Linked DNA regions of Homo sapiens: region 2 is linked to region 1. The links come from fine-mapping of genetic effects on gene expression. A gene starts in region 1. The other region holds a variant in brackets. All regions are shown on one strand. Distances are from middle to middle.

Evidence for each region. PIP is the estimated chance that this variant, and not a neighbour inherited with it, causes the effect.
Region 2: its variant is the best candidate, but not a certain one, in a credible set for the expression of LINC02728 in whole blood (INTERVAL, PIP 0.67).

The regions. Positions count from the first base shown.
Region 1 is chr11:78,426,908-78,432,294 of GRCh38, reverse strand. It overlaps LINC02728 (long intergenic non-protein coding RNA 2728), which reads left to right and starts at 2,459. Exons shown (of 4, transcript NR_120564.1): 1 at 2,459-2,595; 2 at 4,765-4,986. RefSeq lists an enhancer at 4,981-5,180.
Region 2 is chr11:78,359,708-78,365,094 of GRCh38, reverse strand. The region is part of intron 1 of GAB2 (GRB2 associated binding protein 2); the gene reads left to right. Among named protein-coding and RNA genes, the nearest start is that of GAB2, 55 kb to the left of the region's middle. The variant A/G (reference allele first, on the strand shown) is at 2,606.

The sequences.
Region 1 (5,387 bases):
AAGTATTTTAAGTCATGGTCAGCATCCCTCCCTGAACTTGGACATTCTACTGTTGCCAGGAGCCCTAGATTGGCCTGTGATCAACTAAGGCTCCAGTTAGCTGTTGTGCAGTTTGGACCCAGCATTACCATAAATGGAGTCCAGCGAATTTCTAGCCATTATCAGCACACTGGATAGTTTCTGGGGGACCTTTATAAAGAAGACACCAGGAGTTTAGGTGGTTTTTAAACTGTCATTCAGGCAGCTGGTCATTGAATTAACATAGCTCATGACTTTTCAAAAATTTTCTGCTATACCTTTACTGTTCATAATTGTTACTAATAACATGACTATTATTTAGGCATTGCTTTACAGTTCACAAACATGTTTCATGTATCTTATTTTCTTAGTTATCAAGACAATACATTGTGGACTTTGTTCCTTTGTATCTTACTGGTCATGAAATTTATTTGGTTTATTTGTTATAAAAATTCAAAGTTCCTTTTGGGAGGCCAAGGCCGGCAGATCACAAGGTCAGGAGATTGAGACCATCCTGGCTAACACGGTGAAACCCTGTCTCTACAAAAAAAAAAAAAAAAAAAAAAAAAAAAAAATTAGCCGGGTGTGGTGGCAGGCGCCTGTAGTCCCAGCTTACTCAGGAGGCTGAGGCAGGAGAATGGCATGAACCCGGGAGGCGGAACTTGCAGTCAGCCGAGATCACACCACTGCACTCCAGCCTAGGCAAAAGAGCGAGACTCTGTCTCAAAAAAAAAAAAAAAAAAAATCGAAAGTTCCTAATACTGAGAGAAAGACTGCAAATAAAATTCACTGCCCTCAGCTTCCAGAGAAACCAAAAAACATAAAACCTAATAACCAAAGAATCTTGCATCTTAAGCCCCAGAGTTTACTGAATGTGTCGCAAAATACTCACCTTGACCTTGTTCTACCCAGGGTGAAGGGACAGGAGAATGTGAAGGAAGATGATGTTTGATCTCAAATACATTGGAGTAAAGAGAAACACTAAAAATGGGGTAAAGGATCCTAGACCCAGCAATGTACTTAAGCTCATTGTGCCTCAATTTGTTATCAGTTTATACTCACATTTGCCACCTTCCTTTTAGGATCATCTTTGAATTGTGGATAGAAAGATACATGAAAGAAACTTTGATAGGAATTATTAATATCTTCCTCGAAGTCACAGACCTTTGATTTTTCAAGGTAATAATCTGAAAATAGATACATGGTGAGCCTGTGTAACAAAGGTTTTTTTTCTGCAACAGGTGCCCATGTACACAGCTGGAACTGTATTTTGCCGAACCTGAGCCATCTACAACTGTGATTCTTTGATTCATAACTTTCTCTACACACTAGCTCAATAAGAATTGCTGGTTTGCCATTTTCCTAGGAACCTAGTTTTGAAAAATCTTGGAAAGAAGATAATTCTTCCCGTTTATGATATATGAACTACTCCCCTCTGTATTTCTCCTGATTCCTAGTAATTTACCTATTGTAGCTTCACTGAATAGGAACTCACTATCTTAATAGAGATCTTTTATTTATTTATTTATTTATTTATTTATTTAGAGACAGGGTCTTACTCTCTCACTCAGGCTAGAGTGCAGTGACGTGATCACAGCTCACTGCAGCCTCAGCCTCCCAGGCTCAAGTGATCCTTCTGCCTCAGCCTCCCACGTAGCTGGGACCACAGGCACAAGCCACCACACCCAGCTAATTTTTGTATTTTTTGTAGAGACAGGGTTTTGCCATGTTGCCCAGGCTGGTCTTGAACTCCTGGGCTCAAGCAGTCCTCCCACTTTGGCCTCTGAAAGGGCAGGGATTACAGGCATGAGCCACTGTGCCTAGCCTTATTTTTTGGAAACGGTCTTGCTTTGTCGCTCAGGCTTAAGTGCAGTGATGTGTACATGGCTCAATGCAGCCTCGACCTCCTGGGCCCAAGCAATCCTCAGCCTCCCATGTAGCTGGGATCACAGGTATGTGCCACCACATCTAGCTAATTTTTTATAGAGACAGGGTCTCACTTTGTTGCCCAGGCTGGTCTTAAACTCATGGGCTCAAGTAGTCCGCTTCCCTCAGCCTCCCAAAGTGCTGGGATTACAAGTTTGAGCCACCACACCCAGCCAAGAAGTTTTTCTCTCCTCAGAGAGCTCTGGTTGTTAGAAACTTCTACCTGAGAATAAGGAAACCTGTCTCTCTGTATCATGCAAATGGAATAAAATAGAAACACAACTCCTCCTGTTTTCCAGTATAGAACCTCTAACTGCTCAGGTGGACTGTCTGTCCTTCCCTGAAGTGCTGCACCCCTCTGTTATTCATCAGGTCGTGTGTCCTTATAATGGGCATTTCTATTGGTACATAAAAGCTTCCCTCTCCTGTTCACTCAGCTGCTACCCAAGTTTCCTGTGATACCAATCTTAGAAGAGCTTTCAAGTCTCCACTGCCTCCTTCCTATCTGCCTTACAGCCTGTGGTGGTTGCCGAAGAACTTTAATTACAGTGTCAGAGTGTTCAGGGACAGTCCCAACTCCCTTCATGTGAGGATTGCAGAAATGGGCTTGGATCGTATACAGACAGCGTTATGAGGCATTGCTGAAGAACAGTAAGTTCTTACACAGAAGTTGTCAACTAATATATGCATTTTCTTTGCCATACCCCAAGAGGCAGGAGCTGATTCCTATATAGTTAGGATATAGCTGACCAATGTTCTCTTTAAATGTAATTTCCATCTGCCACATTTTAAATTACAGGTTTTTGCATCAGGAAACTGTTGGGTCCAATTATTTGGTGCCTTGGAAAGGGCATTAAATGCATAGTGAGAAGATCCTGGTTTAATCTGACATTCCACTTACTAGGTGTAGAAGCTTGAGCAAGTTAATTAATCTTTGAGTCTGTATACCCAGCTGCAAAATGAGGATAATGCTTATCTTACAGAGTGTTGTGAAAGCAATGAAGATTGTGTGAAAGGGTTTCATAAACTGACAAGCACTGCACAAATGTAAGGTCCCCTAAGGAAAACCTTTTCAAAACTCAAAATCTATATGAACAGAGATACTTATTCATGTTGGGTGGAATGTTTTACAGCCATTAAAAATTGTAAGAGAAAATATATTGAAAAATACAATCTAAAATGGTGAGTTTGCAATTACAACAGTGTAAAACCTGTGTACATAGACTAGAATATGGAAAAAATGGATTACAGGGTAGTGGAATTGAGTGACTTTTGCTTTAAAGACTCTTAGGTATATTAGGTGTATTCAGTTTAGTTCAATAAACTTTTATTGAGCTCTCACTCTCCCAATCCCCGTGCTAGATTCTATGAGTGCTGAGACAAATAGGACATACTCCCTGCTCTCAGAGACTCCCATTCTGTACAGTCTTGTCAAAGTTTACTGTGTATGTGAATCACTGCGGAGCGTATTAAAAATTCACATTATCTTACTCCCACCAGAAGATCTGATTCAGTAGGTCTGTGATGGAACTAGCTCACAATTTACATTGTTTTAAACAGTCACCCTGAGTAATTCTAGTGTAAGTATTTTAATTCTGTACTGAGAAACCTGCAGTGAGATTTTAATATTTTTACACTAAACGGTAAGTAATAATTATACAAATCTGCTCATTGAAGAAGTTACCTGTTTTCTCTGCATGCTTGAGCTGGTTTTTATGTGTCTCTATCAAGGATGGGAAGGCCAGCCTGCAGTGATACCCCTTGGAACCCTTGCAGTGTAGAAACTACCACACCTCTCAACTTTTATCTCTTTTCCTCACTCCATTTCTCCCCACCACTTCTCCTAATGTTTTCTTCTTTCTATGCAAGTGTTAATCTCCCACTCTGGTTCCTTCTATGCCTAGTACTGTATCAACATCCAGGTGCTTCCCCTTCCTTTCTCCACCCCACCCCCCAGCCAGATATGTCAATTGTATTGAAAACAACTTACATCTAGTTTACTAAGTACAAACTTGTGCTGGTTAATGCTTCTCAAAAAGTAGGAGTGGGCTGTTTGTTGAGATCAACAATCATTTTTTTAAAAATCCGATATGGAAATTTTTGTGTCAAGTTTCACTGTCATTTAGTTCTTGACTGATTTTCTTCTGATGGGTTAGTAGCTCTCAACAGAAGATTTTAAAAGTCCCCTGCTCAGGTACCTGTCCTGCCGATAGAGCTGGGGTGTACCCTGCACCCTGACTCAACATTGCTTGTCTCCACATGCCTGTAAATGGGCTTGGGTGGCTTTCTCAGGCTACACACCTGTCACTTCTTAGTCACCCAGAATCAAAATATTAACAGCTCTGATCACATTTTCTGAACCTATGAGGCTTTATTTCAAGAGTGGTGACACTCCAAAATGCAGCTAGGATTTCCGCATTTTCACGTGTTAGTGTTGAAATCATTTTTACTTCAGGAAACCAAGGGTTGGACAATGGCTTCCAGACTTTCTCCTTTCGTTATGCTCCTTCAGCGCCTTATGCAAATACCGGTTGTCTTATGCTGCCATTCGTCTCCTCTGCCAGAATGTGAGGTCCGCGACAGCAGGGATAAGAATGCATTCATTTTTATATCTGCAGTGCCTTGGAGAGTGTCTGACACATAGTGGGCACTCATTTAGAAACCACCAATTGAATCATTAAGGTGACCAAAAACAGGGTGGGGGAAATACGTCCATCAGACAACAGGGAAATATTTCTTAAAAAAAAAATTTCCCAAAACTAGCTTTTCCCTCCTTATGTGTCTGAAATATCTCATAAAATTTTAAACTATCCCTTTCAGCACAAATCTGCCTGGAGCTGTTTCCTGAACACAGGACCAAAAGGCAGGAATCAAAAGTAGTAATGAGTTTAGTTATCTGTCTGTTACTGAAGGTGACTTCTAGGGCATCCTCCTGGCATTGCTTCTGGAATACAGTGACTTAGACTTATTCGGAAGAACATCTCTATGCTGTTCATCACATCGCCAGCACCTAGCCCTGTGCCTGTGCATAGTAAATGCTCAGTAAGTATTGTTGAATGATTGTATTAAATTGAGAAGAAATTCAGAAGCTAGTCCCAAATGAATTTAATTGCTCAGATTTTCAGTTAGTGGTTTTCCCCAACTTGCTCCCTTAATCTAGACAATTTTACTGCCTCCAAATTGAAGGTAGCTACTATTTATGTCATCGAATTTAACAAATGTTAACTTATGTCTATTCTGTGCCTATCTGTGGGCTACCCAAAATTAAACCTAACCTCATGTAGTTTCAGTCCCCATACAGTTGGTTCATAATTCTCAGTGCTCCCACAGTCCTTTGAACATACCTCTTATAACATTGCCCAAATACTACTGGAGATACCTGCCTATTTCTCTCCCCAGAAAGACCCTGAAATTCTGAAGAACCTAGTCTTATCTTGGTATTC
Region 2 (5,387 bases), 67 kb after region 1:
ATCACCTTGGGGTGACAGGTACACTAAAATCTCAGAAGTCACCACTAAAGATCTTATTCATGTAACCAAATAACACCTGTTCCCCAAAACCCTGTTGAAATAAAAAAAATGACTGCAGCCATTCCCACCCTTGTATTTCAAGCATAGCATTGCCACCTACTTGCAAAATACTATATAGACGTATATATATATATTTTTAAAAAGGTGCTATTACCTGGGAAGCTTTTCCCAACATTACATATGTCCAAATCTCACTCTGTATCTACTGAATCTTCTGATATCAGTAGATATGTAGTAAATATGTATAGTTTGGGGAAAATTTCTCAGGAAAGTTTGATAAAATCCCTGGTTTATGCTTTTTTGAAGAACTTAAACACATATAGCAAACTCAAGGCCTATCACAGCATTTGCTATCATAGTTGTTAGTAATATGTTTGGAGAGGAATTTGGGGGGATGGCTATTAAGTGAGAAGCTAGAGGTAGAATAACCACTGCAAGCAATAAGCATTTTACAAAATGGGGATTGAGCTCTATTCGTAGGTGATGAAATCAATGGTAATGAGTTGCTACCAGTATTTTCAAAGTAAAATAGTATACAAAAAGTAGCATGTATTGTGTCCAGTTAAGGATATTTATTGAAACTTTTAAGTTCATTGTATTTATAGATACTGTGCTACAATTTAAAAGACATTTCTTACTGAATTTTTGTCAAAATCCATTGACCTAGATAGGAATCTGTATTGGAGTAAAGATGGTTCTAAGGGGAAGGAGTGTAGAGAAGCAATGTGGGAGCCACATGCGGTGGTTCATGCCTATATTCTCAGTACTTTGGGAGGCGGAGGTGGGAGGATAGCTTGAGGCCAGGAATTCCAGAAGCAATGTGGAAAGGACACTAGGGAATGTAGGTTCTAGTCTTTATCCAAGCTCTTTGACTTCAAGCAAATCACATTTTTCTCCTGGACCTTACATTCTTTTTTCTCATTGCCCTTAGTACCTTCTGTCTGACTTCAACCCCACATCTGCTTGACAAGAATTAACTCAAATATCTCTTCTTAACACCTACCTGATTCTGGCATACAGTAAGTGCTTATAAATATATGTTAAATGGGTGAGAACCTTTCCCTTAGGTCTGTGGGTACTTTCACTGGGCTTGTATATCTACCACTCCATTTAAAACTCTACTTACAGCTTTTTAAGAAAATGTATTTCTAAGCCAGGCACAGTGGCTCATGCCTACATTTCCAGCAGTTTGGGAGGCTGAGGTGGGTGGATTTTGTGCTTGGAAATTCGAGACCAGTCTAGGCAACGTGGCAAAACCCCATCTCTACAAAAAATACAAAAATTAGCAGGGTCATAGTAGTGCGTGCCTATAGTCCCAACTACTTGGGAGGCTGAAGTGAGAGGATTGCCTAAGCCTGGGAGGTGAAGACTGCAGTGAGCTGTGGGTGTCCCACTGCACTTCAGCCTTGGCAACAAAGTGAGACCCTGTCTCAAAAAAAAAAAAAAAAGAAAATATATTTCTATTTATCTTTTACTAGGTTGTGGTCCCCTGGAAAGCAGACATTTTTATTCATCTGTGTATTCTCAGTACTTAACACAGTACCTGGTATGTAATAGGTGCTTCATAGATGTTGGAGAGAATACATATTTTTAAGAGGAGTATTTTAGTAGATGACTCATAAAACATTTATTGAGCACCTACTATATACCAGGCAGTGTGGTAGGTATGGGAAGTGATACAAATGTGTGTAAGAGACCAACATCTTCCCTTGAGGAATTTAGAGATTAATTGAAGCATAAGCACACAGAATTGCTGACAAAGCCATTAGTGTTAGTCTCTAGCTATGTGGTTGCTTATGCAGCTCATGTGTAACTTCTCATTTCTGTGTTTGAATACTGGTCACCAGAACCAGACAGGAAGAATGTCTTTCCGTTCTGATTAATTTTCTTAGGAATTAAGTAAGAAATTGTGTATCTGATATGGTGATCTAGTTCCAAGGAAGGTTAACTTGAGTTGGCAAAAGGAGCCTCATCTTTTTTATATTAGTTACTGGGAGGTTGTTTAAAAATCTCCCATTATGTAATGGACTTGTCACTTTCTACTTATAGTAATGGCAATTCTTGCTTTATATATTTCGAGGCCATATTACTAGGTACACATACTTTTTAGAAGTACATGACTTCTGGGCCTTTGAACCTCTTATCTTTGTGAAGTGCCTGACCCTCTTTGCCTTTTTACCTTAATATCTTTTTTTGCTTGGTAGTCATATACCTGCAGCAGCATTCTTTTGAGTAATGTATATGCTTTATGTAATTTTTTCCATCCTTTGATTTCAACCTACCTGTGCTCTTGTATTTTAGGTGTATCTTTAAAAAACAGTATGTAGCTAGATTATGTTTTTGTTTAGTCTGGAAAGTCTTTCTTTTAACTTGAGAATTTAGTTAATTCACATTTATTGTGGTTAATACAGTGAGACAGGCTTTATCTTTTAAATGGTGAATTAAATTGATTTACATTTATTGTGATTATGGAAATGTTTTGATTTGTTGCAACCGTGTAGTGTTGTACCTTACCTTACACTGAAATTTTCTGTTGTTTTTTTTA[A/G]TCTTACCTTTTGGATTGAACATTTTGTTTCCTTTTTCTAATTTCCTTTTTATCCCTCTGCTTATTTGGAAGTTACACTCTAACTACTTCATTAGAAGTTACTCTAGGTATTTTATTATGCATACTTATTAAAATGTTTAAATTTAATAGATAATACATGCACATGGCTTAAACACAAAATATTTGAAAAGTATACTGTGAGAAGTCTCTTCTCTATCCTTCTGCCACCATCTGCTCATTTCTAATAACCTGGTGTATTTATCTTTATAATGTATGTTGGCCTGTTAACATATTAGATATGTTAGAATATATCTAATAGAGATTATAAATACGCATACAAATACGTATTAACTCCTCCATTTATACAAATAAAGGACAACTTTCTCTATACTTGCTTTTTTTTTTTTTACTTCATAATATATCTTGATGCTCTTTCCATATTGATACATGAACAGTTTTCTTCCCCATGCCTTTTTAAAAAGCAGCTGAGTGGTAGTACATCAATTGGTGAAGGCATAACTAAGTCTTTACTGATGAGCATTTACATTGTTTTCAATATTACTCTTTTAAATAGATCCCAAAATGCACATATGTCATTGTGCACATGTTAGTTTATCTCTAGGATAAGTTTCTGGCATTGCCTGGTTAAAGGATATATACTCTTACACTTTTGGTAGATTATATGTAATTTTGCCACATTGCTCTCCAGAGGGTTTGTAACTATTTACACTCCTGCCTCTTTTTCCACAGTCTTGCCAAGATGATTACCAAAGTTCTGTATGTTTGCCAGTCTAATGAGAGAAAAGTAATATTTAAGTGTATTTTTAATTTGTATTCCTTTTGTAAGTCAACATTGATCTTTTCACATGTTTAAAAATCATTTATAGTTATTTGTCTGTGAACATTTGCTTATTTTTCTGCAGGGTTAATGTTCTTACTGATTTGTAGGAGCTCTTTATGTAGGAGATTAGCCCTTTGTAATAGGAATTGTGAATTTTAGCGAAATATTTATGACTTCTAACCCAAGTTACCATTTTTTTCCTTGCTTTGTCCATAGGCATTTGTGTGGGTGTGGGGGGGTGTGTCCGTGTTGCCATGCAGGATTTGAAAATAGTTTTCATTTTTAGATTTATAGGTTTCTGTGTAGTCACTATAACAATCATTGTTATGGTTTCTGGATTTTAGGTAATAGACTTTCCCTCTTATAGGCTATAAAAGAAATGTACTATGTTTTATAATTTCATTTTATATTACATTTAAATCTGATCCAGTTGGAATTTTTCCTGATCTATGCTTAGAGGTACAGGTTCAACTTTGTTTCAGCTTTATTTTTAACAGTGTCATTAAATCTTTCCCATGGATTTGAGGTGCTACTTCTATCATAATCTAAGCATTTTATGCATTAGTAACCATTTGTGAACTCACTAAGTATTAAATTCCATTAGTCTGTATACTTATAAAATATATATAGCAATACGCTTTGTTTTGATTAATGAGGTGTGTTTTACCATATGGTTGTAATAGTGTCCTCTGCTATTCTTGTTTTTCTTTATGAACTTTACAATTGTATTCTCTTATTTAGAACAAATATGGTGGGTTTTTTGTTGTTGTTGTTGTTGTTGTTTTTCTTTGAGACGAAGTTTTGCTCTGTTGCCCAGGTTGGACTGCAGTGACAAGATCTTGGCTCACTGCAACTGCCGCCTCCTAAGTTCAAGCGATTCTCCAGCCTCAGCCTCCTGAGTAGCTGGGATTAACAGGGACATGCTACCACCCCCAGCTAATTTTTGTATTTTTAGTACAGACAGGTTTTCGCCATGTTGGCCAGGCTGGTCTCAAACTCCTGACCTCAGGCGATCCACCTGCCTCAGCCTCCCAAAGTGCTGTGATTACAGGCATGAGCCACCACACCTGGCCAAAAAAATGGTGTTTTTACTGAGTTTATGTTAAATTAATAAATTCATTTAGGGAGATTTGAGCTCTTTATCAGCACATACATTTTAATTTTTTAATTTGGCCTAAAGTATAGCAGTATATTTACTCTCTGTATTAGTTTCTTTTTTCTTTCCTCCTCCTCTTCTTCTTTTTTTTTTTTTTAAATACAGAAACAGGGCTTCGTCATATTGTCCAGGCTGGTCTCAAGTACTGTGCCAGCTTTGGCCTCCCAAAATGCTAGGATCACAGGCTTGAGCTATCATGCCAGGCCCTTAGTAGTTTCTTGTAGTTGCTGTAACAAATGACTACAAATTTGTTGGCTTAAGACAATAGAGATTTATCGTCTTACAGTTCAGGAGAGAATAAATCCAGGTGTTACAGCGCTGTGTTCCTTCTGAAAGCACTGGGGAAAATCTTTTGCCTCTTTTGGCTTCCGGTGGCTCCAGATGTTCCTTGGTTCATGGTTGCATCACTCCAATCTCTGCCCATGGTCACACTGTCTCTTCCTCCTCTCTCTTCTGTCCCTCTGTCTGTTCTTCCTCTATCTCTGTCTTATATGGATACATATGATTACATTTAGAGTTTCCCTGAATTCTCCAAGAGAAGTGCTGCCTATGAATATTATCTTATATGGCCTAAGGGTCTGAGACCTTTAACTTAATCACATTTTATGTCATATAAGGTAATATTCACAGGTTCCAGGGATTAGGACATGGGCATATCTTTTGGGAAGGGACCATTCAACGCACTACACCCTTCTTCCAAATCATGTAAGAATCTTAGCATACCTAAACTTGAATCACTCCTCCTAACTTATGTTATTGTTGGCCGGTATTTTCTATCTTATTTA